2 separate regions of the Homo sapiens genome follow, and region 1 is linked to region 2. A link means that fine-mapping ties the variant in region 2 to the expression of a gene that starts in the linked region. Tissue or cell type: esophagus muscle. Region 2 holds a variant in brackets; the other region holds the start of a gene. All regions are shown on one strand. Distances are from middle to middle.

Evidence for each region. PIP is the estimated chance that this variant, and not a neighbour inherited with it, causes the effect.
Region 1: it holds the start of CCDC144A, and the variant in region 2 is fine-mapped to the expression of CCDC144A in esophagus muscle (GTEx, PIP above 0.99). The same link has a PIP of 0.9 or more in lung and testis.

The regions. Positions count from the first base shown.
Region 1 is chr17:16,685,901-16,694,004 of GRCh38, reverse strand. CCDC144A (coiled-coil domain containing 144A) reads right to left here and starts at 3,764. Exons shown (of 17, transcript NM_001382000.1): 1 at 3,261-3,764; 2 at 956-1,026. The coding sequence starts at 3,604. It also overlaps the pseudogene RNU6-405P. RefSeq lists enhancers at 3,871-4,774, 6,562-7,062.
Region 2 is chr17:16,777,727-16,785,830 of GRCh38, reverse strand. CCDC144A (coiled-coil domain containing 144A) reads right to left here. Exons shown (of 17, transcript NM_001382000.1): 17 at 7,950-8,104. Among named protein-coding and RNA genes, the nearest start is that of FAM106C, 7.1 kb to the left of the region's middle. The variant C/T (reference allele first, on the strand shown) is at 4,893.

The DNA of each region.
Region 1 (8,104 bases), 92 kb after region 2:
GTATTTTTTCTGCCTTATGATTTTCTTAACAGTTTATTTCCCTAGCTTCCTTTATTGTAAGAATACAGCATATTAATACATATACCATACCAAACATATCTTAATTGACTGTTTATGTTATCAATAAGGCTGCTGGTCAACAGTTAGCTATTAGTAGTTACGTTCTTGGGGGAGTCAAAAGTTATACACAGATGTTTGACTGCAGAGGGAATCAAGCATCCCTAAATTCCACATTGTTAAGGGTCAATTGTGATTGATATTCATTTACTAAACATAAGTCATTTATTTTAAAAATTAAATAGAAGTTCCAATTTCATAACAAGTCTAATTCATTATAAGGTGACTATAAAGAAAACATACAACTTACTAACTCAAAAATATCTTTTTCTTGGCCGGGCGCGGTGGCTCACGCCTGTAATCCCAGCACTTTGGGAGGCCGAGGCGGATGGATCATGAGGTCAGGAGATCGAGACCATCCTGGCTAACACGGTGAAACCCCATCTCTACTAAAAATACAAAAAATTAGCCGGGCGGGGTGGCGGGCGCCTGTAGTCCCAGCTACTCCGCAGGCTGAGGCAAGAGAATGGCGTGAACCAGGGGGTGGAGCCTGCAGTGAGCCGAGATCGCACCACTGCACTCCAGCCTGGGCGACAGCGAGACTCCGTCTCAAAAAAAAAACAAAAAAAAACACTTTTTCTTATTTATACAAAAATATCACATAGGATTTTAGGGACCATAATTAATTTTTTTTCAGACCAGATTGTTTGAAAAAATAAATGACCTACAATTAACTTTTTAAATAATTGTGACATCTAACCTACCAAGAAATCTAACCTATCAAGAAAGAAATAAAGATTTTTTAAAACTGCTCTTTCATGATCAAAACTTCCTTACTCTTACTTCTTTTTTACCTATGGTAGGACCACCAAAAATAATTCACTATCAGAAGTCTTACCTGGATTGTTATTTTGAGGAAGACTTTCAGGTGTCTGTTTTTCCTTATATTCAGGAACTAGTTGCTGAATGCTATGGATAAAAATGTAATAAATGAAATTACTATTTTAAAACAAATGAAAAATACCAAATATATTAAATTTTTAGAGTATTTCAAACAATATCAGAGTTAATATCAGAACTTTAATTATCCCATATACTTCAATTTGTGAGTTCTACCAACTTCTCTTTAAGCTTCTGAAGAAGAAAAAAAGATGAAGTACTCATGAATTGAAGGGAGTATAGCTCAGTAAATTAACTCACATTAGCTTGGCATAATGGAAAGCGTCCTAGCTCTATTACCAGCAGCTATTTATTCTCTGACAAGTTGCTTCTCTTAGGCTCAATGTATTCTTCTAAAAAGCAAGGATTTTACTGCCTTATTTCACTAGGTTGTTAAAGATTTAACAAGAAAACGTTTTGTAAATGCTCAGAGAAACAGTGAAGCAATGAAATAATTTGTTCTTGAGCTTTATTGAGGAAATGGTTTTGGAATCACAAATAAAACCCAATGTGTATTTTTCCAGAGGTTCTAATATTCAAATGTTGCAGTTTTCCAAAACTGTTATTAAGTTCTAGTTTTATTAGTTCTATTCTTTGTGGCTTATAATTTGGGGCATCACAGCTAGTTCATAGTTTGTAACTAAATTTACTTATAAATATATTATTTCATCAAACTAGATAACAACACTGTCCACTATTACTGAGCTCATCAATCACGCCAAGGGGAGAAAGCTAATAGATGTCAAGACCTAGCTTGGACTACTGTTCCATACAGACTCAAACTCTGAATCGGCAGATCTTTGTTAGAAGGATGCTCAATCCCCATGTTCATCTCCAACTGACATGGAAAACAAAATGCTACTTTTCTTTTTCAGTTCCATGAAAGACATGCAAGTTGACATTCTCTCATTTCTGAGATACATACTGACAATATATTTGCACACAACATCCCACGTGTTACTCAGCTCCATTGATCACCTTACTGCATATTTTTGTAGTGAAAAATCACAATTTTAATATTAGGTGATACCCAGTTTGCTTTGACTCACACTGTCTTTGGAACTAGTCAGCAAATAGTCAAATGAACTTCTAGTGACTGCGCAAAATATGGACCACTTCAAAAATCTGTGCATCATCCTTATGCAGGCAGGGGCCATGCTAATTTCTCTCCATTTTGTTCCAATTTCAGTATATGTTTGCTGCTGAAGCAAGTTTTGTTTGTTTGTTTGTTTGTTTGTTTGTTTTAGACTGAGTCTCGCTCTGTCACCCAGGCTGGAGTGCAGTGGCGCGATCTCGGCTCACTGCAAGCTCCGCCTCCTGGGTTCATGCCATTCTCCAGCCTTAGCCTCCTGAGTAGCTGGGACTACAGGCGCCCACCACCACGCCCGGCTATTTTTTTTTTGTATTTTTTAGTAGTGACGGGGTTTCACCGTGTTAGCCAGGATGCTCTCAATCACCTGACCTCGTGATCCGCCCACCTTAGCCTCCCAAATTGCTGGGATTACAGGCATGAGCCACTGCACCCTGCCAAAGCTCTCATTTTATACATGGATATTCATGAGTCATGGATGAGACTTAGCTCTGTTAAATCCAACTAACATACTTGAGACTCAGAATTCTGGTGATGGCTTCCTGCCACAAATCTGGGAAAGGATAATATGGGACATTCCACGATCTAAGAAAAGGGTCCTCAGCATACAGATCTGGTAGCAATGAAAAAAGGAAACTCCTCTCTTTCTGCAACATTATTTGAACTGAACCCCGAGGGCCTAAAGGATAATTTATCATGAAGGTCTTAGCTAAGTCTAGGCTGAGACAAAAGCATAACAGGCGGGGTTTCACCATGTTGGTCAGCCTGGTCTCGAACTTCTGACCTCGTGATCTGCCCTCCTCGGCCTCCCAAAGTGCTGGGATTACAGGCATGAGCCACCGAGCTCGGCCAACATGAAGTTCTTAAGGATGGAAGGAACCTGAGCGACAGTAGAATATGTCTGCTGTATAATAGGTATTCAGCTTATGTTTGATGAATAAATTGAGAAAATGGATAAACACAGTTGGGAAGTGCAATATTTTTAAAGAAAACTCCTGTAAAGTAGACCAACACTTTTGCAATAGTAATAATCCTTTATATTTGATCCCGTCTCACTAAGAGGCCTGGGCCCCTGACCCCTCTGACGTTTCCCCATCCCGGGTGCCGTGGGGCCTGCGGGCACCAGAAAGCCAGTGTCCCCGACAGGACGGCGCATCCTTCGCCTGGCCATTACCTCTTCTTCCTATCCCTCTTGTCCACGCCAGTGTCTCCAGGAGCTAAGATGTGCTCCACCCCAGGGACGTCGCCCGACCGGGCAGCTCTGTGGAGCTCGCCAAGATCTTCCAGGCGGACGTCGTGCTGGGGCTGGTCTAAGGCGCCCTCACCGTGCTTGCTCTCGCTGCCGACGCTGTTTTTCCACCAGCTGTAGGGGAAGCCCGAGGACCACTGGTCCCCCGGGTAGCCCAAGTACCACTGGTCCCCCTGGCTCCCGACGCTAGGGGTCTTCCTCGTGGCGTAGACTGCCGGCTTCGGAGACCCCTCAGCCCCTCCCCGCTTTTCTCCACCCCAGGAGGCCATCAGTAGCGAGCTACTGCCTCGGCCACAACCTCCCAGCAGGATAGCCCGCGGTTTCCAATCTGCGAAAGGAGGACCGCCAAGCCAGAAATGCCAAGCCAAGCGATCACTGCCACGCCAAGCCAAGCGACCACCGCCAAGCCAACAGCCACCGCAAAGCCTCGTGGGTAAGGCCAAGCCAATCCGTTACAGACCAGTGCGCCTGCCCACCTGTGACATCACGGAACCTGTGACTTCACTGCATCTGCAGCTCCAGCCTCCCAGAAAAAGACTCCTTGGCCTGCAGGTGGCGCTGCAGCTCCAGCCTCCCAGAAAAAGACTCCTTGGCCTGCAGGTGGCGCTGCAGCTCCAGCCTCCCAGAAAAAGACTCCTTGGCCTGCAGGTGGCGCTGCAGCTCCAGCGCCAACCTGGGCTGGCTGGTCCTCCCTCGGAGGTTTCGGGGTGGCGGTGCCCAGCCTGCCTGTCATGAGTGCCGCTTCACAGCGCCGCCGGCGCACCTGCTCCTAGGCTTGCTCGGTTCAGGGGTACGGGTCAGTTCCGCCCCCGGCTTGGCCACTGCAGCAAAGTTGCCCTAGGGTCCGCGCTGCCAGGACGCAAGCGGAGTCAGATGGCTGGGTCAGAGCGGCCTGTCAGCCCGGCTGGAAGGGCCTGCCCGACGCCGCTGCCCGCCCAGCTCCTACTCGGCCTGCGCCTGGAGCCAGGGACCAGCTCTGGGCATTCTGCTGCCTTAGGATGGGGCCAAGCAGCCGCTCCCCGCCGTGTGCCGCAGCCGCTGCGCGCATCTGCCCAGGGTCCGTGCAGCTGGCGACCCGGGCGGGTCGGGGAACGCCTGGTGCCACCAGGATTGCTCGCCTCTAGTCCGTCCTGACCCTTCAGCCCGCGAGCACCAGTGAGATTGAAGAAAAGTGACGGCCAGGCGCGGTGGCTCACACCTGTAATCCCAGCACTTTGGGAGGTTGAGGCGGGCAGATCACTTGAGGTCAGGAGTTTGAGGCCAGCCTGGCCAACATGGTGAAACCCTCTCTACTAAAAATACAAAAATTAGTTGGGCGTGGTGGCGCGTGCCTGTAGTCCCAGCTACTCCAGAGGCTGAGACAGGAGAATCTCTTGAACCCGGGAGGTGAACGTTGCAGTGAGCTGATATCGTGCCACCAAACTCCAGCCTGGGCGACAGAGCAAGACTCCGTCTCAAAAAAAGAAAGAAAAGAAGGAAGGAGAGAACGAAGCAAAGAGAAGGAAAGAAGGAAGGAAGAAAGGAAGAAAGAAAGGAAGGAAGGGTGACAAAGGAGAATCTAGAGAGCACTCAAATACTAATTCTTGAGGACAATTAAGACAGATAGCATTATGAAAAACAGATTTTGTCACTGAAGCCTCAGGGCTTCAGCCTAGATCCTGCGCTGCTCACCCACAGAAAGCCAATCACTGAGATGAGTATTGCAAAGGAAGAAGGCTTTAATCAGATGCTGCAGCCGAGGAGATGGGAGCTCAGTCTCAAATCCCTCTCTCTGACCAACTAAAATTAGGGATTTTTAGTATAGCAAAGAAGAAATGTAACTATGTATAAGAAAACATGAACTAGAAAGGCGTAAGGAAGCAATCATTTACAAAATATCTGTGGCCGGGCGCAGTGGCTCCCACCTGTAATCCCAACACTTTGGGAGGCAGAGGCAGGTAGATCATGAGGTCAAGAGATCAAGACCATCCTGGCTAACATGGTGACCCCTTGTTCTCTACTAAAAATACAAAAATTAGTTGGGCGTGCTGGCACGTGCCTGTAGTCCCAGCTACTCGGGAGGCTGAGACAAAAGAATCGCTTGAACCCAGGAGGTGGAGGTTGCAGTGAGTCAAGATCATGCCACTGTACTCCAGCCTGGCGACAGGGCTAGACTCCATCTCAAAAAAAAAAAAAAAAAAAAAAACAGAAAAAGAAAAAAAGTATCACCCTGCCTCCTCAATCTTGGCATAATTCCCCCTATGAGTGGTTTCTGGGGTCTCAGTTGGCATTTAGTCACACGTATGACATTGCACATATCGTGTGCACATCTGCACAGCTCAGCAGTGTCCTGGGTAGGCCTTGAAGGGTGATCTTCACGTAAGCCTGTGGCCTGAGCAAGAAAGCTGCACACGGGCAGCGGAGGAACCAGCAGGAGCCCAGTCCTCTGTGGAAAATTCCAGCACCACCCGCAAGAGCAGCTGCAGTGGAGACTGTGACCTGACAAGGATATATGCATGAAGATGCTGGTCTGAAAACAGACTCAGTTTAAGGGTGGCACTTTGAAAAAATATTGATACATGTCAGTGAGAAAAAAATAATTAGAAACAAAATATATTTATTAGAAATATTACAGTCATTTATCATACACTTTCCTATGAATAGTTAAATACATCTAATTAGCATGTCATATCCAAAAGTGCTGGGTACAATCTAGTGTGCTCTTTATAGACACAAGGCCACAGATGTATCAACTACACTCAACTAATGTAGTTAAAGTTAGTGTGCTAAAAAAAAAATTAGTGTGCTACTCAGGATGCTACAGATTTAGCAAAACTCTAACCTGGATCAGAGGAATGAAATGCCCCGTGAATTGAGGCAACTGTAGATATTCAAAATGCTTCTAAAAAGGCTGTGAGGTTATGTCCTTTACTGCATGTCATTGGTAGGGCATCTCAAAATGGCACTCGAGCTTTGGAAGAATGAGAACTATTGCTGGATTTGACAGTGGGTCTGCATCTATGGGCCCGAGTCCTCCATCTCCACAAGCCGCCCCTCAGTGGGGAAGAGGAGGGGGAGACTAAGGGAGTCTCCGTAATGTTCGTGGGCAGCAGGGAAGAGAACATGGCAGAGATTCCTCACCGCTGGAGGGCTTGTCCCCTGGGTATGTGTGTTTTTGTTTAATACCCACTGGCATCTACTTGGGTTGGTCTCTACAAAAGCTGTAAAAAAACAAATGAATGAAAAAGGAAAACAAAAGACTAATATTGTTTTTGAAATGAAAGGGGCTAGGACAAGAGAAATTCCTGAGAATGTTATCCCTGCGGGGGGCGGCGGGGGAGGGGGATGGGCTACCATCAGACAAGGAAAATTCAATCCCTGTTCAGTGCAGAGAACAGCGACTTCTCACCTTGAAAAACTCCCCCACTCTACTGAGGCTTGCATTTTGCAGCTGTCTTTCATGTAAAAATTATACATAAAAAAAGGATCTTCAGAACAACCAAAGAATTTTAAATGACTACATACTGACTGAGGGAAGATGGAAAGAAACCTGGCTGTTGTGGCCTCTGAAAGCCTCAGGACAGAAACCGGGAATGGCACACTCTGCTGAGTATAGAAAATGTAAGATGCTGACCTTGTTTTCCCAGTTTACCAACTTTCCACCTTCACCTGGTGCTCTGAGTTCTGTTAAAAACAGACCTAAAAACCCTACCCCTTGGCCTAGCTGGGGTGAGGACTGCCTCCCCCAGGTCCTGCACCTCCACACGCCAGCGGATGGCCTGGGGGAGCCTACTAGCTGCTGTGCTAGAAGGCCTATTCCTGCATCCCTGAGGCCATCAGTCACAGTTCCAGGACCCCAGCAGAACCTTCCCTTCCCTGAAACACCGCCTGTATTTCTTTTCTTTGTGTGTGTGTGTGTGTGTGTGTGTGTGTGTGTGTGTGTTTGTGTGTGTGACAGAGGCAGAGGTTGCAGTGAGCCAAGATTATACCACTCCAGCCTGGGCGACGGAGTGAGATGCTCTCTCAAAAAAAAAACAATTTTTTTTTGTGGAGTCAGAGGTCTTGCCATGTTGCCCAGGCTGGTCCCGAACTCCTGGGCTCAAGCAATCCTCCCATCTCAGCCTCCCAAAGTGCTGGGATTACAGGCATAAGCCACCATACCTGACCACCATGTGTACTTCTAGGGACAGGATATAGCATTCCTCTTCTATATGCACACCCACTGGCAACAAAAAAAATGGTAGTCGGGGAAACTCCTTGAGTTATAAAAATAAATTGCACATGGCCTTTCATGTTTCTTTCCTTCTTTTTAACCTAAAGAGAGCAGGATACAGACAAAAATGGAGAGTTTGGCCACAGTCACTGGCAACTTGGGCTCCCATTGGAGAGGGGCTGGTATGGTGCCAGCATGGAGGGAGGGAAATTGCAACACCATTGCCCAGAGCTGGTTCTAGATGGTTTGCACATAATTACTAAAAACAGAGCCAATCACAGGCCAGGTGTGGTGGCTCACCCCTGAGTGAGCTGAAATCGCGCCACTGGCACTCCAGCCTGAGCAACAGAGCAAAACTCTGTCTCAAAAAAAAAAAAAAAAAAAAACAAAAAAAACAGCCGGGCTCGGTGGCTCATGCCCATAATCCCAGCACTTTGGGAGGCTGAGGCAGGTGGATTATCTGAGGTCAGGAGTTCGAGACCAGCAGGAGCAACATGATGAAACCCTCTCTCTACTAAAAATACAAAAAAAAAAAAAAAATAGCCAGATGTGGTGGTGGGCGCCTGTAATTCCAGCT
Region 2 (8,104 bases):
GTACTGAAAGGGAAAAAAAAACTAAAATGAGCCATGTGTGATTCAACTGGAATTAGAATCACCAGGAAGAACTCATGGTTTTCAGTATATTCTAATATAGAAATATGGATGAATATAAGCATGTATGTTTGTATATTTATCCATCTAGCTGTATTTTTCTGCTCTGTTCACTGAGGAAGCCTATGAGCAATGACAACTCCAATAGCCATACGTATCTACCACAATTACTGCCCAGATATTGGTTTCTAATTACTGTCCCCTAAAGAAAGTCAGGGCTTCTGGAAAAAAATGAAAATGGCTGATTCAAGGGCTAGGGCAGAGAAAATACGAAGTATGGTTGAAACAGCTTATGCCAGAAAGTAAGGAAGTATTCAAAGAACAATAAGGACAGTTCAAAAAGACATGAACTCAGCTTGAAATGGCTACCACTGGTCAAAGCGGAGGGAACCTGAACAGCAAAACAATAAATTTTCCCTTCTCCCCTATTTGTTGGTTGGTTTTGTTTTGTTTTACTTATCCACTTAGAAGGAATGAAAGATGAAGACAATCATGATTTGGCAACCACCATAATAATAACTGACCCAACAAAAATAATCAATGAAATGCTAAATCTAGTGGGTGAGATGTTTAGAGTAACCAGATATTTACAGAGCCTCAAACTATGTTCACGTAAGACATTGGTGAAAAACAAAGGGTAGATAGTCACTTTATCATGGACAGACCTGGTAGATTCTCAAACAAAGCCAACACTGGCCAGTAATGGAGCCAAGTAACAGCATATGCCTCCAGATATGCTGCATTGGGAAGAACTCAGCCTCACTTGTGTGACCTTCCTGCCTGAATGGTATAACCTGAACTGAATCATGAAGAAATATCCTATGAACCCAAACTGAGAGAAAATCCACAAAAAACTGACCCATACTCTTCAAACACATAAATGCCATGAAAATCAAGGAAAGACTCAGGAATCATGCTGGACTAAAAGAGACTAAAAAGACAGAATAATTTGACACAGATCGACCTCCTCCAAAGGCCAGCAACCTCAAACATCAAAGGTAGATAGGCCCACAGAGATGAGAAAGAATCAACGTAAAAATGCTGAAACCTCTCAACATCATGGATTATGAAAGTCAACATCATGGATTGTAAAATCACCCATCTTAAATTATTTGGCTATAAAAAATATTATTGAGACAACTGAAAAAAGTAAAATAAGGTTTATGGATGAGATATTAACAGTAAACCATTTTTAATTTCCTGATTTTGATAGTTATACTATAATTATGCAAGATAATGCATTGTTTTTAGGAGACACACATAAAATTATTTAGAAATAAAGAGGCATCATACCTGCAACTTATAAACCATTCAGAAAAAGTCTATATTATGCACCTACATTTATATTTACCTAGAAAGAGAAGAGGAAAAGGGGGAGAAAGGATAAAGCAAATATAGTAAAATGTTCACATTTGGGGAATAGTATCCAAGAATGTTTTGTAGGTTTCTTACTATTTTTCTATAAGTCTAAAATTGTCAAAATAAAACATTTCTAAAAAGAAAAAAATTGTTAAAAAAATTGTCAAATTATAACCTATTAAATGAAATAAACCACAAGTAAATATCAAATCAAGTAAATGAATAAATTGAGTTTGATGAAGAACAGAGATATCTACATAGTCTCAAATTACCTCCCCACAAAATATTAATATTAATTAATTACAAGGTGAAAAAGTAACATTACAGAGGAGAAAGCTAGCAGACACCACTGTTTGTGATCAATGCCAACATCACCAGTAAAAGGGCAAATCAAAATTGTAGGTCACTCATGTTCTATGGGGCTAACAGAGCTCTAATTTCTTCCCGGGATGGAGTGCCTGAGGGGTGGGGCAGGCTGCCACCTAGGCCTTTCAAGCTTCTCAGCCAATTCAGCCTGTGGGCCTTTGGACAGCCCAAACTGAATGGGAACTGAAGGGATCCCCAACACAGCACAGCTGGTCTACCAAAAAGTAGCCAGAATCATTCTTTAAGCAGGTCCCTTATCCCATTTCTCCTGACTGGAGGAGACCTCCCAACTGGGGTCTCCAGCCACCTCCTTACATGCACTTTCGAGCCAGCAATAAGTCAGTACGCTGCTGGGCTGGAGCTTCCAGAGGAAGTGGCAGGCAGCCATCTTTGCTGTTTCACAGACTTCACTGATGATACCTCCAGCTATGGGAAAAACCGAGGCAACTAGGGTATAGTGCGAACCCCCAGCAAACTGCAGCAGCCCTGCAGAAGAGTGGCCAGACTGTTAAAAGAAAAACAAGCAGGAAACAACAACAATAACAATTTAAAAAGCCACAAAAACCCCATCCTCAAGGTCAAAGTTTAAGATAGACCCACAGAGATGAGAAATAACCCCAAAATCCTGAGGACTCAAAAAGCCAGAATATCCCTGCAACACCTCTCCAGCAAGGGCTCAGAACTGGGTTGAGCCTGAGATGGCTGAAATGACAGAGTAGGCTTCAGAATGTGAATAACAGTGAACTTCAATGACCTAAAGGAGCATCTTGTAACCCAATGCAAAGAAACTAAGAATCATGACAAAACAATACAGGAGCGGACAGCCAAAATAGCCGGTCTAGAGAAAAACATAACTCACCTGTTAGAGCTGAAAAACACACTACAAGAACTTCACAATGAAATCACAATTATTAACAGCAGAATAGCCCAAGAAAAGAATCTCAGAGCTTGAAGACAATCTTTCTGAAATAAGACAGGCAGACAAGAATAGAGATAAAAGAATGAAAAGGAACGAACGATACCATCAAAAAATATGGGATTACATAAAGAGAACGAATCTATGATGGATTGGGGTACCTGAAAAAGACAAGGAGAATGGAACCAAGTTGGAAAACATACTTCAGCATAGGATTCAAGAGAACTAACTTCCCCAGGTTAGTTCTAGCAAGACAGGCCAACACTCAAATTCAAGAAATCCAGAGAACTCCAGTGAGATACTCCACGAGGAGATCATCCCTGAGACACATAATCATCAGATTCTCCAAACTCTAAATGAAAGAAAAAATGTTAAGGGCAGTCAGACAGAAAGGCCAGGTCACCTACAAAGGGAACCCCATCAGATGAACAGCCGACCTCTCAGTGGAAACCCTACAAGTCAGAAGATACTGGGAACCAATATTCAACATTCTTAAAGAAAAGAATTTCCAACCCAGAATTTCACATCTGGCCAAACCAAGCTTCATAAGCAAAGGATAAATAAGATGCTTTTCAGACAAGCAAATGCTGAGGGAACTTGTTACTACCAGACCTGTCTTGCAAGAGCTCCTGAAGGAAGCAGTAAATATGAAAAGGAAAAACCATTACCAGGCACCAGAAAAACACACTAAAGTACAAAGAACAGTGACACTGTGAAGCAACCACACAAACAAGTTAGCAAAATAACCAGCTAGCATCATGATGATGAGATCAAATCCACATATAATACTACTAACCTTAAATCTCAATGTGTTCTCCAATGAAAGACACAGAATGGCAAGCTAGATAAAGAACCAAGACCCATCAGTATGCTGTATTCAAGAGACCCATCTCACACACAAAGAAACACATACGCTAAAAATAAAGGGATGGAGGAAAATTTACCAAGCAAACAGAAAGCAGAAAAAAACAGAGCTTGCAATCCTAGTTTCTAACAAAACAGACTTTAAATTAACAAAGATCAAAAAAGACAAAGAAGAGCACTACCTGTTGGTAAAGGGTTCAATTCAACCAGAAGAGCTAACTATCCTAAATATATATGCACCCTATACAAGAGCACCCAGGTTCATAAAGCAAGTTATTGGAGACCTTCAAAGAGACTTAGACTCCCACACAATAATAGTGGGAGACTTTAACACCACAATGACAATATTAGACACATCATGGAGACAGAAAATTAACAAAGATATTCAGGACCTGAACTCAGCTGTGGATCAAGTAGACATGATAGATATCTACAGAACTCTCCAACAAAAAACAAGCGAATATACATTCTTCTCATAGCCACATGACACTTACCCTAAAACTAATCATAAATTAGGAAGAAAAACACTCCTCAGCAAATGAAAAATAACTGAAATCATAACAAAGAGTCTCTCAGACCACAGCACAATCAAATTAGAACTCAAGATTAAGAAATTCACTTAAAACCACACAACTATATGGAAATTGAACAATCTGCTCCTGAATGACTTTGGGGTAAATAATAAAATTATGGCAGAGATCAAGAAGTGTTTTAAAACTAATTAGAACAAAGAGACAACATAACAGAATCTCCAGGACTCAGCTAAAGCAGTGTTAAGAGGAAAATTTATAGCACTAAATGCCCACATCAAAAAGAGAGAAAGATCTCAAGTTAACAACCTAATATTACAACTAAAAGGACTAGAGAACCAAGAGGAAACAAACTCCCAAGCTAGCAGAAGACAAGAAATAACCAAGATCAGAGCTGAACTGAAATAGAGACACAAAAAAACCTTCAAAAAAATCAATGAATCCAGGAGGTTTTTTTTAAATTTACTTTTTATTTCAATAGGTTTTTAAGGAACAGGTGGTGTTTGGTTATATAAATAAGTTCTTTAGTGGTGATTTTTGAGATTTTGGTGCATCCCTCACCCGAGCAGTGTACACTGTACTCAATGTGTAGTCTTTTATTTCTCACTCCCTTCCCACCATTTCCCCTGAGTCCCCAAAGTCCACTGTATCATTCTTATGCCTTTACATTCTCATAGCTTAGTTCCCACATATGAGAACATATGATGTTTGGTTTTCCATTCTTGAGCTACTTCACTTAGAAGAATGGTCTCCAATTCCATCCAGGTTGCTGCAATTAGAAGAATGGTCTCCAATTCCAT[C/T]CAGTTTGCTCCTTTTTATGGCTGAGTAGTATTCCATGGGGTGTGTGTGCACATATCACATTTTCTTTATCCACTCATTGATTGATGGGCATTTGGGCTGGTTCCATATTTTCACAATTATGAATTTTGCTGCTTATAAACGTGTGTACAAGTATCTTTTTTGTATAATGACTTCTTTTCCTCTGGGTAGATACTGAGGAATGGGGTTGTTGGATCAAATGGTAGATCTACTTTTAGTTCTTTAAGCAATCTCCACACCGTTTTCCATAGTGGTTGTACTAGTTTACATTAGCATCAACACTATAAAAGTGCTCCCTTTCCACCACATCCATGCCGACATCTATTATTTTTTAATTTTTTTAATATTGCCATTCTTACAGGAATGAGGTGATATCGCATTGTGGTTTTGATTTGCATTTCCCTGATCATTAGTGATGTTGAGCATTTTTCCATATGCTTGTTGGCCATTTGTATATTTTCTTTTGAGAATTGTCTATTCGTGTCCTTAGCCCACTTTTTTATGGGATTGGTTTCTTTCTTACTGATTTGAGTTCTTTGTAGATTCTGAATATTAGTCCTTTGTTGGATGTGTAGGTTGTGAAGATTTTCTCCCACTCTGTGTGTTGTCTGTTAACTCTGCTAATTATTTCTTTTGCTGTGCAAAAGCTTTTTAGTTTAGTTAAGTCCCATCTATTTATCTTTTGTTTTTGTTGCATTTGTTTTGAGCTTCTTGGTCATGAAGTCTTTGCCTAAGCCAATGTCTAGAAGGGTTTTTCCAATGTTATCTTCTAGAATTTTTAAGGCTTCAGGTCTTAAGTTCTTGATCCATCTTGAGTTGATTTTTGTATAAGGTGAGAGATAAGGATCCAGTTTCATTCTCCTAAATGTGGCTAGCCAATTATCCCAGCACTATTTGTTGAATAGGGTGTCCTTTCCTCACTTTGTTGAAGATCAGCTGGCTGTAAGTATTTGGCTTTAATTCTGGGTTCTCTATTCTGTTCCATTGGTCTATGTGCCTATTTTTATACCAGTATCATGCTGTTTTAGTGACTATGGTGTTACAGAATAGTTTGGAGTTAGGTAATGTGATGTCACCAGATTTATTCTTTTTGGTTAGTCTTCCTTTGGCTATGTAGGCTCTTTTTTGGTTCCATATGAATTTTGGGATTATTTTTCATCATTTTGTAAAGAATGATGGTGGTATTTTGATGGGAATTGGATTAAATTTGTAGATTGCTTTTGGCAGTATGGTCATTTTCACAATATTGATTCTACCCATCCATGAGCATGGGATGTGCTGCCATTTGTTTGTGTCATCTGTGATTTCTTTCAGTAGTGTTTTGTAGTTTTCCACGCAGAGATCTTTCACCTCCTTGGTTAGGAACATTCCTAAGTATTTTATTATTATTATTATTATTTGTAGCTATTGTAAAAAGGGTTGAGTTATTGATTTGATTCTTGGCTTGGTCGCTGAAGGTGTATAGCACAGCTACGGATTTGTGCACACTTGTGTGTAACTCTGTATCCTGAAACTTTGCTGAATGCATTTACCAGTTCTAGAAGCTTTTTGGATGAGTCTTTAGGGTTTTCTAGGTATACAATCATATCATTGGGAAACAGCAATAGGCAGACTTCTTCTTTACCACTTTGGATGCCCTTGATTTCTTTCTCTTGTCTGATTGCTCTGGCTAGAACTTCCAGTACCATGTTGAATAGAAGTGGAGAAAGCGGGCAATCTTGTCTTCTTCCAGTTTTCAGGAGGAATGCTTTCAACTTTTCCCTGTTCAGTATAATGCTGGCTGTGGGTTTGTCATAGATGGCTTTTATTACCTTAATGTATGTCCCTTCTATGCTGATTTTGCTGAGGGTCTTAATAAAATAAGGATGCTGGATTTTCTCAAGTGGTTTTTCTGCATCTATTGAGATGATCATGTGACTTTTGTTTTTTAATTCTGTTTATGTAGTGTATCGCATTTATTGACTTGTAGATGTTAAACCATCCCTGCATCCCTGGTATGAAACCCACTTGATCATGATGGATTATCTTTTTGATATGTTGTTAGATTCAGCTAGCTAGTATTTTTTTTGAGGATTACTGCATCTCTGTTCATCAGGGATGTTGGTCTGTAGCTTTCTTTTCTCATTATGTCCTTCCTTGCTTTTGGTATTAGGGTGTCTATTAGTCTGTTTCAGTATTAGGGTGTGTATTAGTCCATTTTCACACTGCTGATAAAGACATATCTGAGACTGGGCAATTTACAAAAGAAAGAGGTTTATTTGACTTACAGTTCCACATATTTGGGGAGGCCTCAAAGTCATGGTAGAGTCAAGGAAGAGCAAGTCACATCCTACGTGGATGGCAGCAGGCAAAAAGAAAGAGCTTGTGTAGAGAAAGTCCTGTTTTTAAAACCATCAGATCTTGTGACATTCACTCACTGTCATGAGAACAGCATGGAAAAGACCCGCCCTCATGATTCAATCATCTCCTACTGGGTCCTTCTCACAACATGTGGGAATTATGGGAGCTAAAAGATGAGATTTGGGTGGGGACACAGAGCCAAACCATATCATGGTGATTTTGGTTTCATCAAATGATTTAGGGAAGATTTCTCTTTCTCTATCCTGTGAAATAGTGTTAATAGGATGAGTACCAATTCTTTGAATGTCTGATAGAATTCAGGTGTGAATTCATCTGGTCCTGGACTTTTTTGTTGTTGGCAATTTTTAAATTACCATTTTCAATCTTGCTGCTTCTGATTGGTCTGTTCAGAGTCTCTATATCTTCCTAATTTAATCCAGGAGGGTTGTATATTTCCAGGAATTTATCGATCTCCTGTAGGTTTTCTAGTTTATGGATGTGAAGATGTTCATAGTAGTCTTGAATAATCTTTTGTATTTCTGTGGTATCAGTGGTAATATCTCCCATTTCATTTCTAATAGAGCTTATTTGGATCTTCTCTCTTCTTTTCTTGATTAATCTTGCTAATGCTTATCAATTTTATTTATCTTTTCAAAGAACCAGCTTTTTCATTTATCTGTTGTATTTTTTTGTTTCAATTTCATTTAGTTTTGTTCTGATTTTGTTATTTCTTTTCTTCTGCTGGGTTTGGATTTGGACTGTTCTAGTTTCTCCAATTCTGTGAGGTGTGACCTTAGATTGTTTATTTGTGCTCTTTCAGACTTTTTGATATAGGCATTTAATGCTATGAATT